Linked DNA regions of Homo sapiens. The protein of the gene in region 4 interacts with the protein of the main gene of each other region in a biochemical or structural test. Each region holds a gene or a part of one and is shown on either strand. Other genes may lie near its edges. The genes, in order: SYK, PRKCG, PRKCZ, MAPT, SRPK1, CAPN2 and PKN1.

Region 1 (3,500 bases), on a different chromosome or scaffold from region 4:
GGCCACCGAGGAGCTTGCCTCATTTGCTGTGCTACGTTTGTACTTAGATTGTCTCTTTAGTCTCCATGGAAGGGAGGTGTTCTTACCCTGACTTTGTAGGTGAGAAACTGATTCTCAGGGTTAGTTCTGTGACCTGTGTGATACTGGAACAAGGATTTGAGGTGGTGCCTGGCTATCTGTGAGCCAGGCCTGACTACTCTGTTATACTGCTTTTCTTGCAATTCCAAGCATGCCAGGAAACTCAATCCCATTGAACACCAGGAGAATATGGCATTGAGTCCTGAAGAGCTATATGCTAACAAAGTTATTTGTCACCACTCGTGAGTTTTGTTGTTTAAGAAGAGGGAAGGAGTAGATTCACCCACTGCCTGCGTGAGGAGCATGGTTGTTTGTTGTGAAATGGGTCACTGTCTGTTATAGCTGATGAGATCATTATGACTTTCAGACATGTCAAGGATAAGAACATCATAGAACTGGTTCATCAGGTTTCCATGGGCATGAAGTACTTGGAGGAGAGCAATTTTGTGCACAGAGATCTGGCTGCAAGAAATGTGTTGCTAGTTACCCAACATTACGCCAAGATCAGTGATTTCGGACTTTCCAAAGCACTGCGTGCTGATGAAAACTACTACAAGGTAAGTACAACTTAGCTAATATTCAGAGCAGCAGGTGGTAAAAAATGCAAGATAAATGTACGTTTTCTTTATTTTATTATTGGTATGGTTTCAAAAAGCAGTTTTGCTACTGAAAAATAACTATGTAAGATATGTTCTTATAATCTTTGATTTTACTGTTTAAAAAATAAAAATAATATCACACCTTGAGATTTACTCAAAGTAGTATATTCTAAATTATGTTTCATGGAATGATCAGGAATCGAGGTATTAAGTGAAGATTTGTTTTGAAAAAAGAAGAATGGGATTCCTTCATTAAGTTAATTTGAAAAGTTTGCATTGGACAGCTTGATTCTTGCAGGATTTCCCCGAAGCCCTTTTCATGCTACTTAACATTACGAATCTCAGTAGAGGGTTTACTGCACTGCATTTCTCAAACCAGATTCATCCATGGCATCCTTTTCTGATAGGACATTTCATAACATGTGGTGGAACACTGTCCCACAGCATGGAGCTATTGGAGCTTGGAGCTCCAGTACTGCAGTTCAGAGCTCCAATATTGCAGCTTGGAGCTATTCCAAAATAACTTTCTAATGAACACCTACCTATACATGCAAAAGTTAGAAAGTGAAGATTTACCAAATAAACTCGTCATCTGTGTATGTCCACTACATATGTAGAAATTGTTCTATTGGCTTAACTGGTATCCAGAAGAGTTGAAGTGTCAAAAAATAGATGCAGTGCTGGAAAGAAGAGATCTAGATAGTTATGTGACTGAAGCTAAAAGAAATATGCCCCTTGGTTTGGTGAGGCAGAGATTATCAAGAATTAAGGGTGGACTTCCAGCAAAACATAAAGTAGAAACTAGTTCTGGGTGCAGGTTTGGACTTCCTAAAAAATAATTTCACAGTGACCAATCCCCTTGCTAATATAACTTGACCCCTCTCTGAACCCTCAAATGAACCAATAACAACTAAAAGAAGAAAAGATAAGAAAGCTCTATCTTCATATTAACTCATCTGTGGTGTATACCTAGGGTCTATGTTAACCAACTGGAAAACGTGATGGCACCAATCCCACTGAGTCAAAGAGGGTGCCGAAGGCAGGTTAACAACCCTGCTAGTCTCTGGTGAAGTCCACATGCTCAGAAATAGATGGCAGACCTTCAAAATCTACCTAGTGGGTGGCAGATAGGATCCTGTGTTTCATGCCCTGCAGTGGTCAGAGACCCCACCCTGAGTGACAATACCCACCCACTCACCTTTCCCTAAGAGGCAGTCCATGGACTGGTAGGTGATGGGGAATGGTGGACCTCGGCCAGCAAAGGGACTGCATGAAGGGTAAGCCACAAGAGCCAAGCTCCCAGGCAGGCAGGCAGACTCCACCATCTTGAGCACAAAGGCCAGGCGAGAGTACAGCAGGGGTCAGGCTGGCCCTCCTCACCCCATTCTTCATACAGTAGCTTCCCAGAAGGAAGCCCCTTCAGAGGTGAACCACTGTGAGAAAGGCATCAGCATGGGCCTGGATAGAAATAGCAGGGAAACAGAGCAAGGAAGACAGCAGCCTAGGATGACCAGCATGGGACATGCTGGAGAAAGAAGCCTGTTGTAATGCTGGATGTACCTCATCATGATCATTACAGAAAAGAAGACAGCCTGTCTGAAACAAGGACACAGAGGAGATAGAGAAAATGAAACATGAATGCTGGGCACCTTATCCACTGCTGTATAACAAATCACCCCAAACTTACTGCCAAAAACACCACCAGGTGTTGGTTTCCCTGCCGTCCTGCTGTGTGGGCAGGGCCAGGTAGGCAGGGTTCAGTGCGTCTGCTCACACAGGGGATTGCACAGTGGCCCGAGGGACAGGAGGACCGTTTCCACTCTGCTCACTCACACTACTCAGCCACTGAGCAGCTGGTTAGACACAGCCCATGCTGGAGACCTCTGCGGGGCTGTCAGCCAGCTCACCTGCACATGGCCTCTCCTTGGGGCCCTTGGGCTTCCCTTGGGCCCATGCTTCCCTTGGGCAGCATGGCAGCTGCGGGCTGAGAGCAGTTACCCAAGAGGCAGGAAGTGGGGGCTGCCAGGCCTATAAAACCAGGCCCAGAAACTACCTCAGGGTCACTTCCACCTGATCCTATTGGTCAGAGCAGCCAAGGCCACCAGCTTCAAAGGATGGGATAGATAGAACCACCCTTTTGAGGAGAAGTGTCAAAGAGTCAAAGAACATGGGGCCAATTCTAAAACTGCTGTAGATATTAAACAGCATACCATTAAAAAGTAAACTAAACTAAAAAGTAAACCAAAGATTGTCTTTGGACAATCAATGAAGAAAAAAAGCCACTAGGGAAATAAAAGCCATCTTGGAAGCAGCAAAAAGAGACAAAACTACCGAAAAGATAGGGTAGTGGAAGATTTCTGTATGAAAACAAAGCAAAGTGAAATGGAAAAGAATAAAAAGTGGGCCGGGCGTGGTGGCTCACGCCTGTAATCCCAGCACTTTGGGAGGCTGAGGTGGGTGGATTACCTGAGGTCAGGAGTTCGAGACCAGCCTGGCCAACATGGTGAAATCCCGTCTCTACTAAAAACACAAAAATTAGCCAGGCATGGTGGCAGGCACCTGTAATCCCAGCTACTCTGGTGGCTGAGGCAGGAGAATTGCTTGAGCCCGGGAGGTGGAGGTTGCAGTGAGCTGAGATCGTGCCACTGCACTCTAGCCTGGCCAACAGAGCAAGACTCTGTCTCAAAAAAAAAAAGGAATAAAAAGTGAAACAAGATCAAAGAAAAGTGCTAGCTGTGGAAGCAAACGAACGCTGGCACTCGGGAAACCATGCGTGACAGGGTAGATTTGTGCAGCATCACAACTGAAAAACACAGGTGTTCT
Region 2 (3,500 bases), on a different chromosome or scaffold from region 4:
CCAGCCTGGGCAACATAGTGAGGACCTATCTTCACTAAAAGTGCAAAAATTAGCCAGGTGTGGTGGTGCACACCTGTAGCCCACCTACTTGGGAGGCTGAGGTAGAAGAATTACCTGAGCCTGGGAAGTTGAGGCTGAGTGAGCCGTGATCACACTACTGTGCTCCAGCCTGGGCAACAGAGTGAGACCCTGTCAAAAAAAAAAAAAAAAAAAAAAAAAACGAAACAAAAAATCACCTGATGAAATAAATATTCAGAGTGGGAAGAGCTTGTGCTGAAAGCACTTAACGTGGGTAGCGCTCCCAGGGGGTGAGGCCAGAGGGGTCCTAGGCTTCCTAAAGAACGCATCATGATTCCCTGCCTTCCACCTCCCCTAGATCATTGCCTACCAGCCCTATGGGAAGTCTGTCGATTGGTGGTCCTTTGGAGTTCTGCTGTATGAGATGTTGGCAGGACAGGTAAGGGAAGGTGGGGAGAAGCTGGCTTGGCTAAAAGAGACAGAGAGGGGCACCTGGATCTCAGGAGGAGCCAGTTAGAAAGGAGCCCAGAAGGTTGTGCTCGAATAGCGCTGTCCATGGTTCTGAAGTGTTGTCTTAATGTAGACCAGGTGTTTTGTTTTGTTTTGTTTTGTTTGTTCTGTTACCATGGATTCTTTCTCCCTAGATGGTAAAGTAGCAGTCTGGTTAAGCCTATGGATCCCTTCTCAGAAGAATGTTTTTCAATGCACAAAATAGAATAATACATACGCAGAAAACCAAGGTTCAAATCCTCACTTTGCCACTTACTGGCTGTGTCAGCTTAGACAATTACATACATTCTAAATCAGCTTGATTGGATTCCTGGACTGCTGAGTGTACTACAACTAAAAAAATTGGTTACCACACTCTTGATCATCTTCTTAGCTGGCTATGGTAGTGGGCACCTATAGTCCCAGCTACTGGGGAGGCTGAGGCAGGAGGGTCACATGAGCCCAAGAACTCAAGGTTACACTGAACTATGAGTATGCCACTGTGTTCCAGCACAGGCGACAGAGCAAGACCCCATCTCAAAAGAACAAACAAACAAAAGAAATCAATCATTTTGAAAGATAGTCACCAAAACTTTTAAAATTTAATTGAATCTAACAACCAACTAAATTCAATGTATACAGTTGTCTAAATATTTAAAATTGGAAAATGGACATATGTGCAATTTCTTATTAATTCATTAAGTAGTAAGTTCTAATGGTAGTAAAGTAAAAAGGAGCTCTAACAGTAATTTTGATGTAGCAATGACTAATAATTTGGAATATCTGCAACTCTCATGTGATGAGAAAATACCTGTGATTACTATTGATAATGAAGCCACAAGCACTGCTGCTGCCTGCATTCATAACTGAAGGGAATGCTAAATTTTAGTTAGAAGTTAAAAAAAAATTTGGCCGGACATGGTGGCTCACGCCTGTAATCCAAGCACTTTGGGAGGCCGAAGTGGGCAGATCACTTGAGGTCAGGAGTTTGAGACCAGCCTGGCCAATATGATGAAACCCCATCTCTAAATCTTTGCCTTGGTATCATTTTTTGTAACCTCAGAAGACTGTGAACTACTCATCCAACCAGGAGAATGCTTTTAGGGTGTTTCCTGCAGTTTTTCCTCTCTTCTATTTAACTGACATGTTGCATAATTAACAGCCTGCTGATTTACATAGCAGATAAAGAGAGGCAGAATAGTACAGAGATGCACAGATCTGAGGCATCCGAGATAGGAAATGAGAGAACCTGAGAAGGAGAGAGATCAAGCTTTGGTGGTTTGGTCTGATCTCTCCTGAGGGTGTGGTCAGGTGTGCATGTGGGGCGTGTGATGGGTCAGGCATGTTCCCGGTGGGGTGAGGAGGGTGTGGAAGGTTTGGGGAAAGGCAGTTGGGCATGTCCCTGACTCTCTATCCCCTCCACTTTGATAGCCTCCCTTCGATGGGGAGGACGAGGAGGAGCTGTTTCAGGCCATCATGGAACAAACTGTCACCTACCCCAAGTCGCTTTCCCGGGAAGCCGTGGCCATCTGCAAGGGGGTGAGAGCCCCCTGACTCCCAGCTTCTCCAGGCTCACAACCACACACCCCATTGCTGTCTCTGTGCCTATTAGAAAAATGCTCCCATTCCTGAAGTCACTTTACTTCCATCTGTTGGAAAAGTTGATATGATGCATAGGTTTTGTTAGAACAATGATTTCCAGCCCTGTTGCCACGAGGCCTGGAGATGGCCTCTGTCTCATCCTTCTCTGTGACTCCCACTCCCCAGCTCCCTGCTTGCAGGAAGTGCTGAAAGTCCAGGGTGTCTGTCTGTCTAGAACTGGGTGGGTCAGGTAAACCCAACTTCTGCAGCTTTTCTTCCTGTGTGAACTTGGGTGAGTCACCAAAACTTTGTGAGCTTAACTCTCTTCAGGGGTTATGGAGTTGACACAGAAGAAAGCACCTGGCCCATAGCAGATTTTCAGCCCATGTCAGCACCTTCTGCGTCTAGCTGCTCTCTCTGCATCTCCCTGACAGTCTCTCTGGTTTCTGTCTCATGCCTCCCCTCCATCTGCATACGATGGGGCTCTCTGTGTTTCTTCCTTTTCTCTGTGTCTCCTTCTGCATCTCTGTCTACACTTTTGGGCCTTTGTCCAACCCCCCTACCCCCCATCTCTGTCCCCTCCTGTGTCCACTCTCATACACACACGCTACATCTCACCCTCCTCTCCTGCTGGCTTTCTGTCCTCCCTTTTCTCTGGGTCTCTGTCCCCATATTTGGTCTTTATTCCTCCCTCTGGGTGTGTGTTTCCTGGGTCTCTATCCTTCTCTCTTTCTGAATCTCTGTCCCCCTGGGTCTCCTCTGTCTCCTCCCTTCTCTGAGTTTCTGCCTTCTTACCTGGGGTCTCTGTACCACCCTCTGAATTTCTATTTCCCCTTTTCTCTGGGTCTGCAACCTCTCTTCCCCCATTCCCTCCCTCTTCCCCTTCATCTCCTCTACCCTTCCCTCCCTCCCCCTACCGACCTCCCTCTGTCCTTCACTCTCCCCTTCCCTCCCTCCCCCTACCCTTCCCTCTCCCCGTCCCTCTCTCCCCTTCCCTCTCTCCCCCTACCCCTTTTCCCTCTCCTCTTCTCCATCTCCCTCATGATTTGTTCTGTTTCTCTGTGTGTCCCTGGGTCTCTGGGTATGAATTTCATCTGCTATCATTTTCATGTATCCTCTCCTTCTTCCTGTCTCTCTCTCTCTCTCTCTCACTCACTCTCACCCTCTGTCTCTCTCTCTCTCTGTCCCTCTTCCTCTCTCTCTCCTCTCTGTCTCTCTCTGTCTCGCTCTCTGTCTGTCTCCCTCCTCCTCCTCCTCCCTCCTCCTCCTCCTCCTCCTCCTCCTCCTCCTCCTCCTCCTCCTTCTTCTTCTTCTTCTTCTTCTTCTTCTTCTTCTTTTCTTCTCTCTCTCTCTCCTTTCTTTTCCCTTCCTCCCTCCATTTGCCTGTTTCCCCTGGCTGTTCTTATCTCTCC
Region 3 (3,500 bases), on a different chromosome or scaffold from region 4:
CAAGCAGACCTTGGTGACCCTGGGTTCTTCAAGAGGGGCCGTGGTGCCGTCCTAGCTCTGGGCTGCAGCGTGAGACTCAGGCGGCAGTCTTGGATAGGACCCATCTTCCTGAGCCCCCACAAGCCCCCGGCACACTCTGCTCATTGGGGCATGAGGCTCAGGCAGCAGGCTCAGGTAGGACGTGGTACGCTCTGCTCAGTGGGTCGGAGGTAAGGTTCATTCATACCCCAGTCTTGAACCAGCTCTTAAGGACTGTGGAGGTGAAAGCCAGGTCTGACCTAGTAGCATTGGGCACGCTGAGGCTCCGAACATCTGGAGCCTCTCCCTGGCATCCCCCCTGGGAAGCCATGCCCAGCCTGTGATGAGGGCGGCACCTTCCCTCCGCCATCCCCGAGTGCTTGGACTTGAAGCATCCAGGCCTTTGGGGGCCTTATTGACTTTTGCTTATTGAAGGCTGCCTCTGGCATTTCCGTGTGGCCCCCTGCATCCCACTGAACCACGGGGGTGAGGCCTGGACTGAACATTCAACTCCCTGGGCCCTGCTGCAGCGTGCAGTGGGTGTGTCTGGGGAGGGTGGCTTGTCTGCATCTTGCTGTGGCATGGGAGGAAAGGCGCCTGTGGCAGTGACGTGCCCTCTCCTCTGTTACGGGATAAAGACAGAGTCTGGATCAGGGTGTCACCCCAGGATCACCAGCCACAGGGATGGGGGACCACGCAGGCTGGTGCATGCGTTGGCACAGTCCTTCCAGAGGTCCTTCAGCTGCATCTGCCAAAAAGCCTGTAATGCCCTTTGACCTCATAGGTCCACTTTAGCGTAAGCAAATGAGACCGGCCCCAGAAATGTGGTCAGCTAGAGGCGGAGGGAGGCCAGAGCCTGCCACCCAGCTGACCACCAGTACTGGTGGCTCCATTATGACATATCTGCAGGCGGAACCCAGAGGCCCTTAGAATGGCCCCCTGATGCTTGGTTACTGACAGGATGCAGCTTTGGGACAGGGGAGATGACCAAGCATTGTGCAAAATATCCCGTTGTATAAAGCACTTGGTGGAAAGGTCATGGCCTGCAGTACCGAGTGGCCACCTCCGTCTGCAGAATCATAGGTAATGTTTATGTTCTTTATCTAATTCAGTAAAATAGCATAACAATTAGATTTTTATATACTATATTACAGTATACCCATTGTAATGTGTAAATATGTAAATCATAAATAGTCTTGAAGTGGCCAGGTGCAGAGGCTCACACCTGTAATCCCAACACTTTGGGAGGCCAAGGTGGGAAGATCACTTGAGGCCAGGAGTTCAAGACCAGCCTGAGCAATATGGTGAGACCCCATCTCTACAAAAAAAATACAAAAATTAGCCAGGCATGGTGGTGCGCACCTGTAGTGCCCGCTGCTCTGGAAGCTGAGGCGGGAGGATTGCTCGAGCTCAGGAGGTTGAAGCTGCAGTGAGCCGTGATCGCGCCACTGCTCTCCAGCCTGGATGATGACAGACTGTGACCCTGTCTGTAAAAAAAAGTTCTTAATTTTAAAAAGTCACAAAGTGTTTACAGAAGCTACATTGTAACACCTGCTCTAGCACTTGGTCATGCTGCCATCTCTGTGTCTCTCCGGCAGGATTCTGTCATGCCTTCCCAAGAGCCTCCAGTAGACGACAAGAACGAGGACGCCGACCTTCCTTCCGAGGAGACAGATGGAAGTAGGCGCTGCTTTCTTCCGGCCGGGTAGAGCCTGGGCATCACCTCACCCTGCTCACCTCTGCCTTCTAGCCACGAGTCCTTTCTCAGTCCCATCTGCTCTGCAGGGGTCATTGTCTTCAAGCCTGGCCACCCTTCCCTGGGGCTGGGGATGAGGCTCTCCAGGGCCTCCTCTCAATCCCCGGCAGAGATGAGCAGGGTGAGCTGGCCCTCCCTGGAGGCTGCTGGGCAGGGATGCCTCCGTGAAGTGCTGTTGTGGTTGCCCAGGGGTGCAGAGCCTCTTCCTCTAACCAGCTCCGGGAGTTCTCGAAGGCACTTAGTGCAGCAGCCACCATGGCCGGGCACCTCCCACAATCTGGCTGCTGCACAGAGCTGAGCCCTATCTGGGGAAAGCCTGGCGAGGTGGCTGCTGCACACACAGCGTGGCAGTGGCATGGTCCTTGGATTTTTGTGAGGTTTTGTTTGTTGTGGGGAAGGACTTGTTTTATTGCTAAGAAGCATTCAGAGAGAGATCTCAAACACCAGTTGGACTTACAGCCCAGGTTTGAGCCTCCACACCTGCACCTCTGCACGGGGGTGTGAGAGCCTCACTTTCACTTGATGCATGTGAGTTCTGTCTCATTGGGAGACCACAGAACATAAAGCACTTATGAGACCACAGAACATAAAGCACTTAGTTCACACAGTGCCTCACGCAAAAGAGATGCCTCACAAACAACTGCCTGCCCACCTGCTCCTCCACCCACCTATCCTCTATACAGATATTCATCCGTACATCATCCATTCACCCACCTAGCCAACCAACCAGCCCTCATCCAGCCAACCAGCCATCCTCCACCCGCCCATTCTCCATCCATCCACCACCTATCCATCTATCCACGATCCATCCATCTCGTCATCCAGCCAGCCAGCCAGCCATCCTCCACCCACCCATCCTCCAGCTATCTTCCATTCGTTCATCTGTTGTCCACTGACCTCTCCATCTATCCATGTATCTATTGTCCACTGACCTCTCCATCTATCCATCTATTGTCCACTGACCTCTCCGTCTATCCGTCTATTGTCCACTGACCTCTCCATCCAACCGTCTATTGTCCACTGACCTCTCCATCTATCCATCCATCTTTTGTCCACTGACGTCTCCATCTATCCATCTGTCTGTTGTCCACTGACCTCTCCACCCATCTATCTGTTGTCCACTGACCTCTCCATCTTTCCATCTGTTGTCCACTGACCTCTCCATCTATCCATCTATTGTCCACTGACCTCTCTATCTATCCATCTATTGTTCACTGACCTCTCCTTCCATCTATCTGTTGTCCACTGACCTCTCCATCTATCCATCTATCTTGTCCACTGACGTCTCCATCTATCCACACATCTGTTGTCCACTGACGTCTCCATCTGTTCATCTATCTGTTGTCCACTGACCTCTCCACCCATCTGTCTGTTGTCCACTGACCTCTCCATCTTTCCGTCTATTGTCCACTGACCTTTCCATCTATCCAGCTATTGTCCACTGACCTCTCCATCTATCCATCCATCTATTGTCCACTGACGTCTCCATCTGTCCATCTATCTGTTGTCCACTGACCTGTCCACCCATCTGTCTGTTGTCCACTGACCTCTCCATCTATCCATCCACTGTCCACTGACCTCTCCATCTATCCATCCATTGTCCACTGACCTCTCCATCTATCCATCCATCTATTGTCCACTGACGTCTCCATCTGTCCATCTATCTGTTGTCCACTGACCTGTCCACCCATCTGTCTGTAGTCCACTGACCTCTCCATCTTTCCGT
Region 4 (3,500 bases):
GCGGATGACGGTGGGGTGCTGAACCAGCCGGTGCGCCTCTGGAAATGTCTGGGCACGGATCCTGGGGCCATCGACGACTCCTCCCCATTCCCAGCAGGCGGGAGCTCTTACATTCCGAGCGAGTGACCCCTCTCACCCTCTGGCGCTCACACACCTGTAACTCCAAACCTCCGTCTCAGAATGGTCCAGGCTGGAAGGGATGATGGGGGCTCCGACAGCGACTGCCTAGCTCACCCCTCTGCGTGCTCAGGCTCCAGGCTCAGCAGGACCAATTTGAGTTCTATCTGATCCCCCTCGGCCCCTTAACTGACCCATCCTACAGGAGACAGGGAAATGTCTTTCCTACCGCGGTTGATTCTGGGGTGTCATTTTGTGTTTTGTGATGGCTGCTTATATTTACTGTATAAGCATTGTATTTACTGTATAAGCATTGTATTATAATTACTGTATAAGCTGCTTATATTTACTGTATAAGCATCTCCAAATCCTCCCTCTACGTAAACAAATTAATGGATAAACAGATAAGTGTATCCCCTGCCCCCACCCCTGCTACGCAGGTCCGGAGTGACTCTTGAAGCTCATACATTCCTTGGCCAAGTTTGCTTCTCTAACAGATGTTTATATAGCAATAACCTGGCTTGGCTCTTGGGTTCACCTTTGGACGATTTGGGGAAGGGGCTTGTTGGCTTTGCTGGGTTTTGGATGAGTGACAGTCCATGACTGTTCCTGCTGGAAGGGCGTGACTTTTAAGTGGTTTCTAATATCAGGCATTGCTCCTCCGACAGGAACAAAAGAAATGGATACTGCCCATAAATTGTTAGAAAACTTAGAATCGCTTTGATTGAGGAAAGGTTAGATTTATTCCGGTTGGAAAAAGTGGCCTTTCTATTAAACGTGCCCTTTGACCCTCATGCCCTTGGAGGTCGGTGCCAGCCTGGAGATGGGATAAGATTGTGGTTTTCCTTCTGCCTTTTTAACATCTGTTGTTACAGTCCATTTGTTGAAAATTTAAAGAAACTGTTTTATTCCACTTTCCCTCAGCATTTATGTGTGTGGTTTCAGTAGCTCTGTGGCTATATGTACGAACACGTGTTATTTTTCCAATTGGACATGTGATAATTTTCCAACTGGACCTTGCCTTCTATTGATGTATTTATTTAGCATCTTCCTTACTCCCTCCTTGAAAAAGAATCACTCAAAAACAAATAAAAACAGCCGTAGGGGCCTAATACAGTGCTAGACATACAAGAGGTATTCGGTCCATACCAAATGGATTTTATCCATGAAGGATAAATGGGGAAATACAGTGGGAAGCAGGTGGGAAACTGCGTTTGACTCTGCTCTTTCCTCCACCACCACTTTCCTCATCACCGTGTTCAGAGACCCCCAAAGCCCCCTCACACTCCCAGAAACACCCCCCTGGCCACTCCTAACTTGCCATGCCCAGGAGTTAGGTGCTTCCACTAGTGACATGGAGCTGGCGTTTGGGGGGCACCTCAGCAGGTGACGGGAAGAGAAGACCCCAGCCTCACCAGCTGGGCTGCAGCAGGGAGAGGAGTCCTCATGTTCCAGCAGGGACTCTCAGCTGTTTTCCTGTAAAACCATGGTTCTCAACTGGGGGCCACTGAGATGTCTAGAGAGATGTTTTTGTTTTCACAACTCGGGGAGGGTGCTACTGACATCTTGTGGGTAGAGGCCAGGAATGCTGTTAAACATCCTACAAGGAAGGCACAGGACAGTCTCCTACATCAAAATATGACCCAGTCCCAATGTCACCACTGCTGGGGTTGACACTGGCACTGCTATCTTAATTACATTCATTGAGTGTCTTTTAGGAGGCCCTATTCTAAGTGCTTGCTAAGATTATCTCATTTAATCCTCACAACACTTCCGCTATGTAGCAGGTGCTGTTATTATCTCCGTGATGGGGAAACTGAAGCACAGAGAGGGTTAGTAACTTGCTAAAGGTCACAGAGCCAGTGGGTGGTGGAGCTGGTTGCCTGACACTAGTTCCCTCCCCTCTCAGCCACATGTGGGTTTACTTGGCCATTGTGGACTAGTCTGGGAACCCAGATATGATCTATAACATTGACCCAGTAGAATATTGATTCCAAAACCACTGTCTCACAAATGAATTTTTACAAGAGTCTGTAATCGGAGCATGACCCAGAATAAGGTTAGGGAGATGTGGAGTTAAAGCTCTCAATTTCTTATCTGGCCCCGACACAGAGAGCAAGGCATTTCACTCTACATTGGTGCTCTGTTTATAAAACAAAGAGCAAATATCTCTTCCTAAGGTCCTTAAACCTCTTCCCCCAATCCAGGGTTTCTGGACTGCTCTGCCATATGACGGGGCAGCTGGTTTGATTGACCCAGGGAAGGCTGGAAATCAAGACTGGGGGATCAAGACGTAGATTCAGTGTGGCCAAGGTCAAGTCTCTGAGGTTTAGGGACATCAGATCCCCAGCTTAGGTTCTGTACCTCGGCAAGGTGAAAGCGTTGGCGCCCACTGATGAGGCCTGCTCTGAGATTGTGGGTGTGGGTTGAGTTGGGTGGGCATAGGCAAGTCCTCTTGTAAGAATCTTTTGGCAAAGATGGGCCTGGGAGGCTTTTCTCACTTCCTGGGGCCCAGGCTTTGCAATAAGTATTCCATTATACTGTGGTACCTTGGGGCTACCTGAGAATCCTCTGTCTCGCCCCTGTTGCCTTGCCAAAGAGTTTGCTGTCCAAGAATTCCTTTCCTGTCTCCAGGTGCCATGCTCCTGCCACCTCTGCCAGGTTCCCTGCCTGCCCAGATGGCTCCCAACTGAGTGTGAGGAGGAATTTGAGACAGGTTTTGAGCTTTCTGGGTTCTCCAGTTAGGAAACTTTCTGTAAGCATGCAGATAGAATGGGCTTCAGCAAAATACAAACTCGAACAACTTCCATGTATAGTCCCTTAATTTTCTTTGCTTTTTTCATATTTCATCAGGCTCCATGCTGAGCCCAATCAGGGACCCGATAGAAATCCAAACACCATGTCAGCGAGTCCCCAAGAAATGCATTTTGTGCCAAGGCTATTCAAGGAAGGTTTGGGAGCAGCTCAAGGGCAGACACTGTTACCCTCCCCCAGGTCCCCAGTGCAGGGCAGTGTTCTGCATGTGGAGGCAGTTTGGCCTAATGGTTAAGGAGGTAGGCTCTGATCGGGCCTCCTGGGCACAAATCCCAGCTCCCTGCTCACTGTGAGACCTAAGCCATATTGTTTAGCTGCTTGGAGAGTTTTTTGTCATCCACAACTTGGAGTATGATGGTACCTGTCTCACGGGTTGCCATGGGGTTCACACAAGCTAACCCGGTACTCACTAGGGCCAAGCACATAGTAACTGCTCAGTAAATGGCATCATCGGCGGTGTCCTGTGGATGAGTGCTTGTGATTGGCTGAATGACCAGAGGGGTCTAAAGATCCTGGTGATGGAATCAGTTGTACAGATAAATTGTTACACTGAGTAGGGATCAAGATAG
Region 5 (3,500 bases), on a different chromosome or scaffold from region 4:
CCGTGGATTTTCCTACAGACAACAGGCATCATCAATAAGACTGTTCAATGAACAGAGAAATACTCAATGAGTAATAAAGCTCTCCAAGGTAAGAGTAATACAGTCAGCAATACCCAAGTGACAACTTACATTTTCTGAGACAAAAAGAGCACAGCAACGCCTTGAGTTTCCAGAATTAAAAACCTCTGCCCTCACAGCAACAAATGAAGTGCTGTGTACTCAGTACATGATGGATAAAGTTAGCTACAGATTACAATTTAAACGTAACTTAGACACACCTGTTGTAAAGCTATAGTTACAAAAACAATCATACTTTTAGTCTAGAAATCTGTGAATGTGTTGTGCAGGGAAGGAGTGTTGAGGAAGTATAGCTGCATAGGTACCTTTGTTGTCCAGTGGTCCGTTATGTTCTTGCTCTTGTTCATCTTCACAGGGTATCTCTGCCCGAATGCTTTCTTGAAGTTGGCTAATGTGTTGTTCACTGAATGACTGACCTACAGTTGAGGAAGACTGGCACACCATGGTGTCTGACACCTCAGATGTTATAGGTGTACAAGAGTCTGTTTCTTGAGATGTGCTGCTGTCTCCATTTTGGGAGCTTAGGAAACTAGATTCCTGATTCAAATTTTGGACATCACAGTCATTAGCATTATGTAGATCCTCTTTATGTCTCAATGTTTCATTATTACTGTTCTGAGTATAATTAATGACTTCAATCACTCCATTGCAATTAATTTCTGCTGCACCACCCTCTGTATCACGTTCCATAAGCGTTTGATCCTGGCCAATGGTACTTGACTCTTCTAAGGAACAAACGAACAAAAAAAGATATATGCATATGTGTGTGAGTGAAAGAACAGAAACATTTCTCACAAGATTAAAACATTTTCTAGAACTTATACTGAGTGACATAAAAACATGACTAAACATCTAAAACCTATTTCCGGAAGGGCCAAGATCTTACTTTTACCCAATTGTTAAATGAAATCTATGTTCCATTTCCTGAGAAAAGTTACAAATTACATTTAAATATTACCTGCCTAACATTTATGACAAGATCCATATTCTTATAAAGATACCCCCAGAGATGTGTTGTATGTATGAAACCACTGTATTATATAGCAATGATAAATTAACGTTAAAGTGTGTTGTACAGTAATTTTCGTGATGTTCTATTTATACCAAGTTTTTCTTGGGTCATTTTATTAGGTGGGTTCTCTTTCAAGGGTCTTTCAACAGGACTCTCTGATTCTTCTTGCTTGTTTGGTCTTTTTTGCCCAGGGCCCGACTCTTTCTCCATTTCCTCAATTTCCTGCATTCGCTTCTCTAGTAATTCTGCCTGGCGCTTCTGCTTCTTCTTCAATTTCTTCTTCTTATTCTTTGACATTTTGTCAGCCTGGGCGGAGATTACAAACAGATAAAGCCTTCAGGTGGCTAATTAATTACCCCCAGTTGGAGATAGTTGTTAACTTTAATTACTTCCTAATTAAATTTCACAAATCTTTCCCTAACATAGCACTTAAGTCTTTCATTAAATTAAAAGATGCGGGATACTCTTATAAACCCAAATAAAAACAGAATAAATAACAAAGTGTGGTCTTCTGAGCAGTCCGTGGGGTTGGTTTACATTCAGACAAACTCGAATTTTTTAGAGGCCTCACCAGTACAAATGTGATGAAGGTGCATGGGAATTTACTGGAGAAAATTATAGAAGCGCAGGAATTTTTTTTCCTTTTGGTTCTCAAACTTGAAACAAACTGTTACCATCCACAACAGAAGAACCCATGCCCATAGTCCATAGATCAAAATTAAATATAAAAACACCTTATACTTACTGGTTTAGGCTGGGGAGCAGTACTGACTGAAAAGAAAAGAAAACCAAGTAAGAATTCTGGCATTCATCAGGCAATATAAACTAAGGCTCAGATAAAACACTCTACCAGAATGAAAAGTCTTTCTTATGTAGTCTACATTGCAGAGAAAACTATTGTTTTTAAATGACTTAAGTAGAAGCTATATTATTACCATTTTTAAAGAAAATAATGAATAGAAATTGCCAAACTTAAAAAAAAGGGATAAATAAAATTCTTCCTCCCCAGGTAAACTAAAGTTGCTAAAAATCACCTATTTTCCATTCCCATGCACTGCTTAAAATAGAATGGGACAAGCAACAACCTCTTCACCTCAAATGCTACCCAGAATCTGTCAGTTTTAAAAGGGGAGTCTAGGTGACATCAAGAGCTATAGTAATTTGCTCTACAGCATGTCATGGATAACAGTGTAGCTTAGCTGGAAGGTAGGATCTTCAGTCTTCCTCTTTTTAAAATATTAGTATAATAACTGTGGTTAACAAAAAACACATAATAAAAATTTATACTCTAGATAAGTGTACATTCAGTGGTTTTAACACTATTCACACTGTTGTATAACAGGATCTGTAGAATGTTTTCATCTTGTAAAACAGAAACTACATCCATTTAACAACCAACTCCCCATTTCCCCCTTCTTTAGTCTTCCTTTTTAAAGAAGTGTATAACTAATAACTCAACTTGAGGATCAAGCAAGTTCCTAAAAAATGACACACTACTAAAACTAAAATCTGTATCTCAAAAGAAAAAAAATCATAAAGCAGCCTTTATTTATTTATTTAATTTTATGTCTTAGACAGGGTCTCACTTTGTTGCCTATGCTCGAGTGCAGTGGTACTATCACAACTCGTGGCAGCCTTGACTTCCTAGGCTCAAGCAATCATCCTGCCCCAGCCTCCTGAGTAAATGGACTACAGGCACGCATCACTATGCCTGGCTAATTTTTTTAATTTTTGTAGAGACAGGGTCTTACTGTGTTGCCTAGGCTGGTCTCAAACTTCTGGGCCCAAATCATCCACCCACCTCAACCTCCCAAAGTGTTGCGTTACAGGCATGAGCCACTGTGCCTGGTCCCGCAATTTATTTGGTATATAATATTGTGTGGCACACTACTAACTGCTTTACCATTTAATCCCAATAATTCGCAGTTGAGGGAAAATAAAGTAAAATAACTCAGCTAAGGTTTCTCAGTCTAGGATGAAGCCCAAATTCAAACCAAGTCTGTCTACTCCAGTGTTTAAACCTAAACTATTAATAGCAATGTTATCTTGTCCCTCTACAGACTACCAGTCCTATAAATGAGCATGTGTGATCACAGTTAGAGGTAAACACTTCAAAAATCATCAACTCATAAGAAAAAATATTTTTAAACAATACACACCAGCTTTTATAACATACAACACAAAGACACAATATCTAGTTTTCTCCTTCCCCTATGGAAGTAACAGTGAGAATGTCTCTTGGAAGCTGATAATGTTTCTTAAATATGTTATTGTTGAAATGGATTGAGTGGTGTTTAATTCCCTGGTAACAGAATAAAAATAGAAATTTCTTTTTAACTTCTAATGATAGCGAAGTCCCTAAAAGAAAATACACCTGCAGATCCGGAAGGCGGAGGAGCTCCAGATCGCT
Region 6 (2,490 bases), on a different chromosome or scaffold from region 4:
GATCCTTCAGCTACCCTTCCCTTGCCCACCTCCAATCTTGAGTCAGTCCAAACATCTCCCACATCTTTCCTGCCACCTGTGCAGCTGGACAGAGAAATCACCGATGCGAGGAGGTTGGGACTCCTGCACTCTCATGGCCACCAGCCTCCCCTTTGCCCTCAAAATCCACTCAGCAAGCAAGAGAACTTCAACTCATTTGAGCCGAGTTTGGGAAATCCATTGTCTCACCTTGTTCAGGAAATATTAGGATGGCATTTGCCTATCATCTCAAGTCATCTTGAGGAAATGATTCATCAAGAACCACAAGCACCAGACCAGTGACTTCATCTGCATGTTTTCTCAGCTCCCTTGCTTGTACCTACCCCAGGAGGAGCTGGCCAAGGTCGAGCAGGGAACTTCCTGAGAGGCACATACGTCTCTGTGCTGCCTAACAGCAGATCAGCAAGCAGTAGAAATTAGAGCTTCCCTTATGTTATGGTCAGATTATCAAAGTTTCTGAATTGGATTTTAAAAAATTTTATAGTTCCACATTTTAATTATAGGCAAGGTGTCTTTTCCTTTGAATACATGAATTTACAGAGGCAGCATACCTTGTTAAAGTAGAAACAAGCTATAATTGTGTGCTCATAAACCGTCCTGTGGGGCTGCCCTCCAGGAAGGAAAACATGGCATGGTGTGATTGCATGGGGTAACCCTTTATTTTTATTTAACAGTACATTTGGAAGAAGATAAGGCAACAAGGCAAAATTTCTATAATGTTGCTAGCATTTTCCCAAGGTAAAGCCAGGAAACAAACTTGTGTCCTTTCTATAAGAACTTCTAAGTGATGTCCCCTCTAACTCCATGGACAGACACTAGTGGTGGTGAAGTTCATAAAGTTTTGAGGTGGCAAACAGCTTATTTTGTCCTTTATCATAATTGGTTTACAAATTGGATGCCTGGTTTTGGCATACTGGTTCAGTTGATCAAGCGCAGGATCCCTTTGGTCTTTGTAAGACCAGATGTATAAGGCCGAATAGGGTCAAGAACTTGATTGTAAGGAGAACGATTTACTATTACCAATCAATATTCTACAAAACCTGTCTCTTGTTTAACCCAAGCGACAGAGGTGAGTCTTCTCTCCTGGACTCTCCAGATGCCTTGACAAGATTACTTCATGATATACCATGTTTCCCAGTTGGCTCATGGGAAATGGTAATCTTGGACTGTTGTTTGGTAGAATCAACAGCTGCATTTTAAACTTGAAGTTGCTTTAAATATTCCCTGCCAAGGGCCTCGTGTCCTTTGAGAGCGACTCAATGTTTTTGCTCAGCTGTTAAATACCTCCCTGCATTTTTTTTTCCTGATTTAATATTGCTATGAACAGGAAAGTGTGTAAAAGTAAAAAGTGTATACTATTTACAGATTTAAAGCTTTCTTTGACCTTGTCAAGGGTTAAGCGACTCATTTGCATTTAGTATAATGATATGCAAATCTTTTACTTTGATGTGTGAAACTTCTGCTATCTCAAATTGACAGTATCATTATTTTCAGCTATGATCATCCGTTTAAGTAAATGTTCCCATAATTTTGAGGTCCAGATACAAAGTGTATTTCTATGGAAGCTTAGTCCTTGGCTGATTTTCCATCATGAGAAGTCTTCAGGCAGATTAGTTATAACTTCAAAGTACTGAGAAACAGAGCCACTGTGAGGAAGGAAAAAAAAAAGTCAGCTCAGTGACCACTTTTAAAATTAAAGGCTATTTAAGTACCTGTAGATTGTTCCAAAAAACTTGTACTGGAAAAGCTGATTGAGGGCTACAATATCAGTGCACTAACTCATATTTTTCTTACCTGATTTCTAGAGTCTAGCTTTTAACAGGTCAGTAGTCTGTGTGATTTGCATTAAGTGGCCATGAATCATATTACAGGGTTGATTGCACACATGAAAAGTGAAATTCACACAACAGAAATTAGCATTTTCACATCTCTGCCTCAGAGTATCACATCAGAAGTTAGTTTGGGATGTGGATATCCCTGCAACCAATGGTGTTCAGCATTGGTTCTAAGTTGTAGTGATACGGAAACTTTAAATCAGATTGATTCAACTGGTCTGGGATACAGACAGGACACCAGCACTTTGGCAAAGCTCCCCATGTGATGGAATCTGCAGCCAAGGTTGAAATCCCTGCAGACTGAACGGAGAGCTTCTGAACATGGCTCATCCTTGCAAAGACTACGAGAAGCGAGGATCTCCAGGAACCTGCAAAAGGTAAGGCTTAGGAGTGGCAGGAAAAGCCAGTGGGTAAGAAGATGCTTCTCGGAGGAGATGCGGAGGGAGTGGACTGAGCAGGCAGGCCAGGTGGACCCTGGAGTGGGGGTGGGTGGCTGGGGTAGAATAGGATATCCAGCAAGAATGACAGGCTAGGATTTCCAGAACTTAACATGTGGCATGTTTCGTGTCACAGTTGTGTTGACTCTACTATTTATTTCATTTTAAATTTTTTGAGA
Region 7 (3,500 bases), on a different chromosome or scaffold from region 4:
TGCCTCAGCCTCCAGAGTAGCTGGGACTACAGGCGTGCACCACCACCAAGCCCGGTTAACTTTTGTATTTTTAGTAGAAATGGGGTTTCACCATGATGGCCAGGCTGGTCTTGAACTTCTGACCTCAGGTGATCCACCTACCTTGACCTCCCAAAGTGGTGGAATTACAGGTGTGAGCCATTGCGCCTGGACTGCTTACTCTGTTTTTACTTGTTTCAGGAACTGCCAATATTCCTTCCTCCCTCCCTCCCTCCCTCTCTCTCTCTTTCTTTCAGACAGAGTCTCGCTCTGTTGCCCAGGCTGGAGTGCAGTGGCTCGATCTAAGCTCACTGCAACTTCTGCCTCCTGGGTTCAAGCGATTCTCCTGCCTCAGCCTTCTGAGTAGCTGGGATTACAGACACACACCACCATGCCCAGCTAATTTTTGTATTTTTAGTAGAGACGGGGTTTTGCCATGATAGCCAGGCTGGTCTCGAACTCCTGACCTCAGGTGATCTGGCCCCCTCAGCCTCCCAAAGTGCTGGGATTACAGGTGTGAGCCACTGCACCCGGCCATGCCAATATATTTTCCATAGGGCTGCACCATTTTACATTCCCACCAACAGTGCACAAAGGTTCTGATTTCTCTCCACATCCTCACCAACACTTATTTTCTGTTTGTTTTGTTGGGTTTTTAAAATAGTATTAGTCATCCTAATGAATATGATATATTGGTTTCTTGTTTGGTTTTCCTTTCTTTTTAAATTTGTTTTATTTATTTATTATTATTATTATTATTTTGAGATGGAGTCTTGCTCTGTTGCACAGGCTGGAGTACGGTGGCACAATCGCGGCTCACTGCAACCTCCGCCTCCTGGGTTCAAGCAATTCTCTGCCTCAGCCTCCCGAGTAGCTGGGATTACAGGCACGCGCCGCCACGCCTGGCTAATTTTTTTGTATTTTTTGTAGAGATGGGGTTTCACCATGCTGGCCAGGCTGGTCTTGAACTCCTGACCTCGTGATCCACCCGCCTCGGCCTCCCCAAGTGCTGGGATTACAGGCGTGAGCCACCACGCCCAGCCTTTTTTTTAATCTAAATAAACTTGAAGTTTTTTTTCTTTTTTTTTAATTTAGAGACAGGGTCTCTCTGTCATCTAGGCTAGAGTGAAATGGCTCAATGATAGCTCACTGGGCTCAAGTGATCCTCCCACCTCTAGAACAGCTAGGACTACAGGTGTGGGCCACCACATCTGGCTAATTTTTACATTTTATTTTTTGTAGAGACAGGGTCTTGCTATGTTGCCCAGGCTGGTCTCAAACTCCTGGCCTCAAGTGATCCTCCTGTCTCAGCCTCCCAAAGTGCTGGGATTACAGGCATGAGCTGCTGCACCTGGCCTGTTTTTTTGTTTTTGTTGTTGTTTTCGTTCTCTTTTGAGGCAAAGTCTCACTCTGTCACCCAGGCTGGAGGGCAATGGCGTGATCATGGCTCACTGCAATTTCCACCTCCCGGGTTCAAGTAATTCTCCTGCCTAAGCCTCCCAAACAGCTGGGATTACAGGTGTGCACCACCATGCCCAGCTAAGTTGTATTTTTAAGTAGAGACAGTGTTTCACCATGTTGGCCAGGCTGGTCTCAAATTCCTGACCTCAAGTGATCCGTCCACCTTGGCTTCCCAAAGTGCTGGGATTACATGTGTGAGCCACCACACCCGACCCCTGGCTTATTTTTTAAAGGTTTACAAATATGGGGCATTCCAGGTCCCCAATGCCACCTCGTTTCTCAGGGCCCACGATGCCCACTCACTGGTGTTCTCGGCTTCTGCTTTGAGGCTGCTCCGGCCACTGAGGCTTCCGCTTCGGCTGTAAAGGCCCCGGGCTGGGCGGCTCAGGAAGGGGGGGCGGCTGTCTGGGGTCCCAGGTCCCCCCATTGAGGGGGTAGGGTTCCACGGGATGGTCTCTGGGAGGTCTCTGCAGCCCACCACTCGTACCTCCAGGGTCCCTGCAGGAGGGGAAAGCTCAGCAGGGGGCCACTTCTGGGGCAGGCTGAGCGGAGGGGACCACAGCGGGGAGGGGACACATCCAGACGCAGCCATGGTACAAGTGGGAGCCAGTGAGGGACAACCAGAATGGAGCATGGGGCATGAGGCCGGGATGTCCGTGCTGGGATAGGAGAATATGAGAGAAGCAGTCCTTCCAGGAGGGGCTCAGATGCGGGAGTTTAGGGGCAGAAGAGAGGCTCAGGGTACAGGCCGTAGGCTCAGGGTACAGGCCGTAGGCCCAGGCAAGCAGGAACAGGGTAGGACTAGGGGTTCTAGGGGAGGACTCGGTGGACAATCTGAGGTCTAAGATGGGCTAGGGGTCTACGGTGGGGCTGGTCTGGAGGGGTAGATGGCTGAGGGGTCTGTGGAAGGTGGGGCTGGCTGGTCTGCAGCAGGCGGGTAGGAGGCTCATGGCTGAGCGTTGTGAGGCCGAGGTGGGGCTGGGGAACAAGGGCTGGGAGAAAAATACTGGGCCAGGTGAAGAGAGATGGAGAAACTGAGGTGTGGGGGGGGTGGGCAAGAGCCCAGAATCAGAGGGCAAAGGAGGGGAGGAGACAGTGGTGGAATGGGAGTCCAGGGTTGGGGAGAGCGGAGATTGAAGTCGGGGGTCACAGGAATGGGGAAATGAGAGGAGTCGGAGGCCCAGGGCTGCAGGGGTGGGGTAGGGTCTCAGACCCACCTGTGAGCGGCGCGGGCTTGCACAGGGTGCTGTAGTGCGTGGCGGGAAAGGGCCCGGCCAGGCGGGTGCTGAAGGCAGCGGAGGAGGCCGCAGCGAGCTCTTCTCGCAGCAGCCGCCCCTTGGGGTGGTCGGCGGGCAGCTCCCCAAGTCTCCGCTCCAGAGCCTCCCGCAGCAGCCCCAGCTTCTGGTTGGATTCTGTTAATTTCTCCTGGGCCTGTGGTGGGAAGTGTGGGGGCTGGGGGCGGGACCAGGCTTGCCCCTTCCCAAGTGCAGGCCTAGGCCCCACCCCCAGGCTGAGTCTCACACTGAGCTCCTCCCTAGAGGGCTAAACCTCAAACCAACTTGGTCCCACCTCTGGGAAAACCAGGCCCCGCCCCTTGGAGAGGCCCCTCCCCTCACCGAGGGCCATTCCTGCCTGAAACCATGCCCCCTCGCTGAGGCCCCGCCCCTCACAGTTGCACTGTTCCTGCCTGATGCCCTGCCCCTCACAGTAGTCTACCCTGGCTGAGGCCCCACCCCTTATGAAGGTCCCACCCCCTTTGAGGCTCCACCCCTCACCGTGGGTGTTCCTGGTGAACTCCCCGCCGCTTGCTGAAGCACCGCCCCTTGCTGAAGCCCCGCCTCTAATGAAAGCTCCGCCCCTCACCTCGCTGACTGCCTTGCGGTCCGGGGCCTTGGCAGCGCTGAGCAGGCGCAGTACGTTCTTGGCACCCTCGGCCACCGCGTGCTCCACTCGGAAGTGGTGCCGCAGCTCTTCGATGCGCAGCTCCACAGCCCCCAGGTCAGGACTCCCTGTGAGCGTGG

What was found.
Region 1: of the proteins of MAPT (region 4) and SYK, one has a biochemical effect on the other in vitro, tested with the Homo sapiens proteins (one study listed by BioGRID).
Region 2: of the proteins of MAPT (region 4) and PRKCG, one has a biochemical effect on the other in vitro, tested with the Homo sapiens proteins (one study listed by BioGRID).
Region 3: of the proteins of MAPT (region 4) and PRKCZ, one has a biochemical effect on the other in vitro, tested with the Homo sapiens proteins (one study listed by BioGRID).
Region 5: the proteins of MAPT (region 4) and SRPK1 form a complex in vitro, tested with the Homo sapiens proteins (one study listed by BioGRID).
Region 6: of the proteins of MAPT (region 4) and CAPN2, one has a biochemical effect on the other in vitro, tested with the Homo sapiens proteins (one study listed by BioGRID).
Region 7: of the proteins of MAPT (region 4) and PKN1, one has a biochemical effect on the other in vitro, tested with the Homo sapiens proteins (one study listed by BioGRID).

What each region holds. Positions count from the first base shown.
Region 1 is NC_000009.12:90,878,319-90,881,818, forward strand, and holds part of SYK (tyrosine-protein kinase SYK), read left to right. Parts: intron 1-445; coding exon 446-635; intron 636-3,500. UniProt on the Homo sapiens protein: Non-receptor tyrosine kinase which mediates signal transduction downstream of a variety of transmembrane receptors including classical immunoreceptors like the B-cell receptor (BCR).
Region 2 is NC_000019.10:53,902,697-53,906,196, forward strand, and holds part of PRKCG (protein kinase C gamma type), read left to right. Parts: intron 1-376; coding exon 377-457; intron 458-1,938; coding exon 1,939-2,046; intron 2,047-3,500. UniProt on the Homo sapiens protein: Calcium-activated, phospholipid- and diacylglycerol (DAG)-dependent serine/threonine-protein kinase that plays diverse roles in neuronal cells and eye tissues, such as regulation of the neuronal receptors GRIA4/GLUR4 and GRIN1/NMDAR1, modulation of receptors and neuronal functions related to sensitivity to opiates, pain and alcohol, mediation of synaptic function and cell survival after ischemia, and inhibition of gap junction activity after oxidative stress.
Region 3 is NC_000001.11:2,144,411-2,147,910, forward strand, and holds part of PRKCZ (protein kinase C zeta type), read left to right. Parts: intron 1-976; exon of another isoform or gene 977-1,101; intron 1,102-1,616; coding exon 1,617-1,698; exon of another isoform or gene 1,699-1,895; intron 1,896-3,500. UniProt on the Homo sapiens protein: Calcium- and diacylglycerol-independent serine/threonine-protein kinase that functions in phosphatidylinositol 3-kinase (PI3K) pathway and mitogen-activated protein (MAP) kinase cascade, and is involved in NF-kappa-B activation, mitogenic signaling, cell proliferation, cell polarity, inflammatory response and maintenance of long-term potentiation (LTP).
Region 4 is NC_000017.11:45,897,554-45,901,053, forward strand, and holds part of MAPT (microtubule-associated protein tau), read left to right. Parts: exon of another isoform or gene 1-1,245; intron 1,246-3,500. UniProt on the Homo sapiens protein: Promotes microtubule assembly and stability, and might be involved in the establishment and maintenance of neuronal polarity.
Region 5 is NC_000006.12:35,869,099-35,872,598, forward strand, and holds part of SRPK1 (SRSF protein kinase 1), read right to left. Parts: coding exon 3,465-3,500; intron 1,862-3,464; coding exon 1,836-1,861; intron 1,397-1,835; coding exon 1,183-1,396; intron 804-1,182; coding exon 384-803; intron 13-383; coding exon 1-12. UniProt on the Homo sapiens protein: Serine/arginine-rich protein-specific kinase which specifically phosphorylates its substrates at serine residues located in regions rich in arginine/serine dipeptides, known as RS domains and is involved in the phosphorylation of SR splicing factors and the regulation of splicing.
Region 6 is NC_000001.11:223,774,029-223,776,518, reverse strand, and holds the end of CAPN2 (calpain-2 catalytic subunit), read right to left. Parts: intron 2,252-2,490; exon of another isoform or gene 1,686-2,251; coding exon 1,662-1,685; 3' UTR 501-1,661; downstream 1-500. UniProt on the Homo sapiens protein: Calcium-regulated non-lysosomal thiol-protease which catalyzes limited proteolysis of substrates involved in cytoskeletal remodeling and signal transduction. Proteolytically cleaves MYOC at 'Arg-226'.
Region 7 is NC_000019.10:14,450,306-14,453,805, reverse strand, and holds part of PKN1 (serine/threonine-protein kinase N1), read right to left. Parts: intron 3,489-3,500; coding exon 3,343-3,488; intron 2,911-3,342; coding exon 2,697-2,910; intron 1,978-2,696; coding exon 1,783-1,977; intron 1-1,782. UniProt on the Homo sapiens protein: PKC-related serine/threonine-protein kinase involved in various processes such as regulation of the intermediate filaments of the actin cytoskeleton, cell migration, tumor cell invasion and transcription regulation.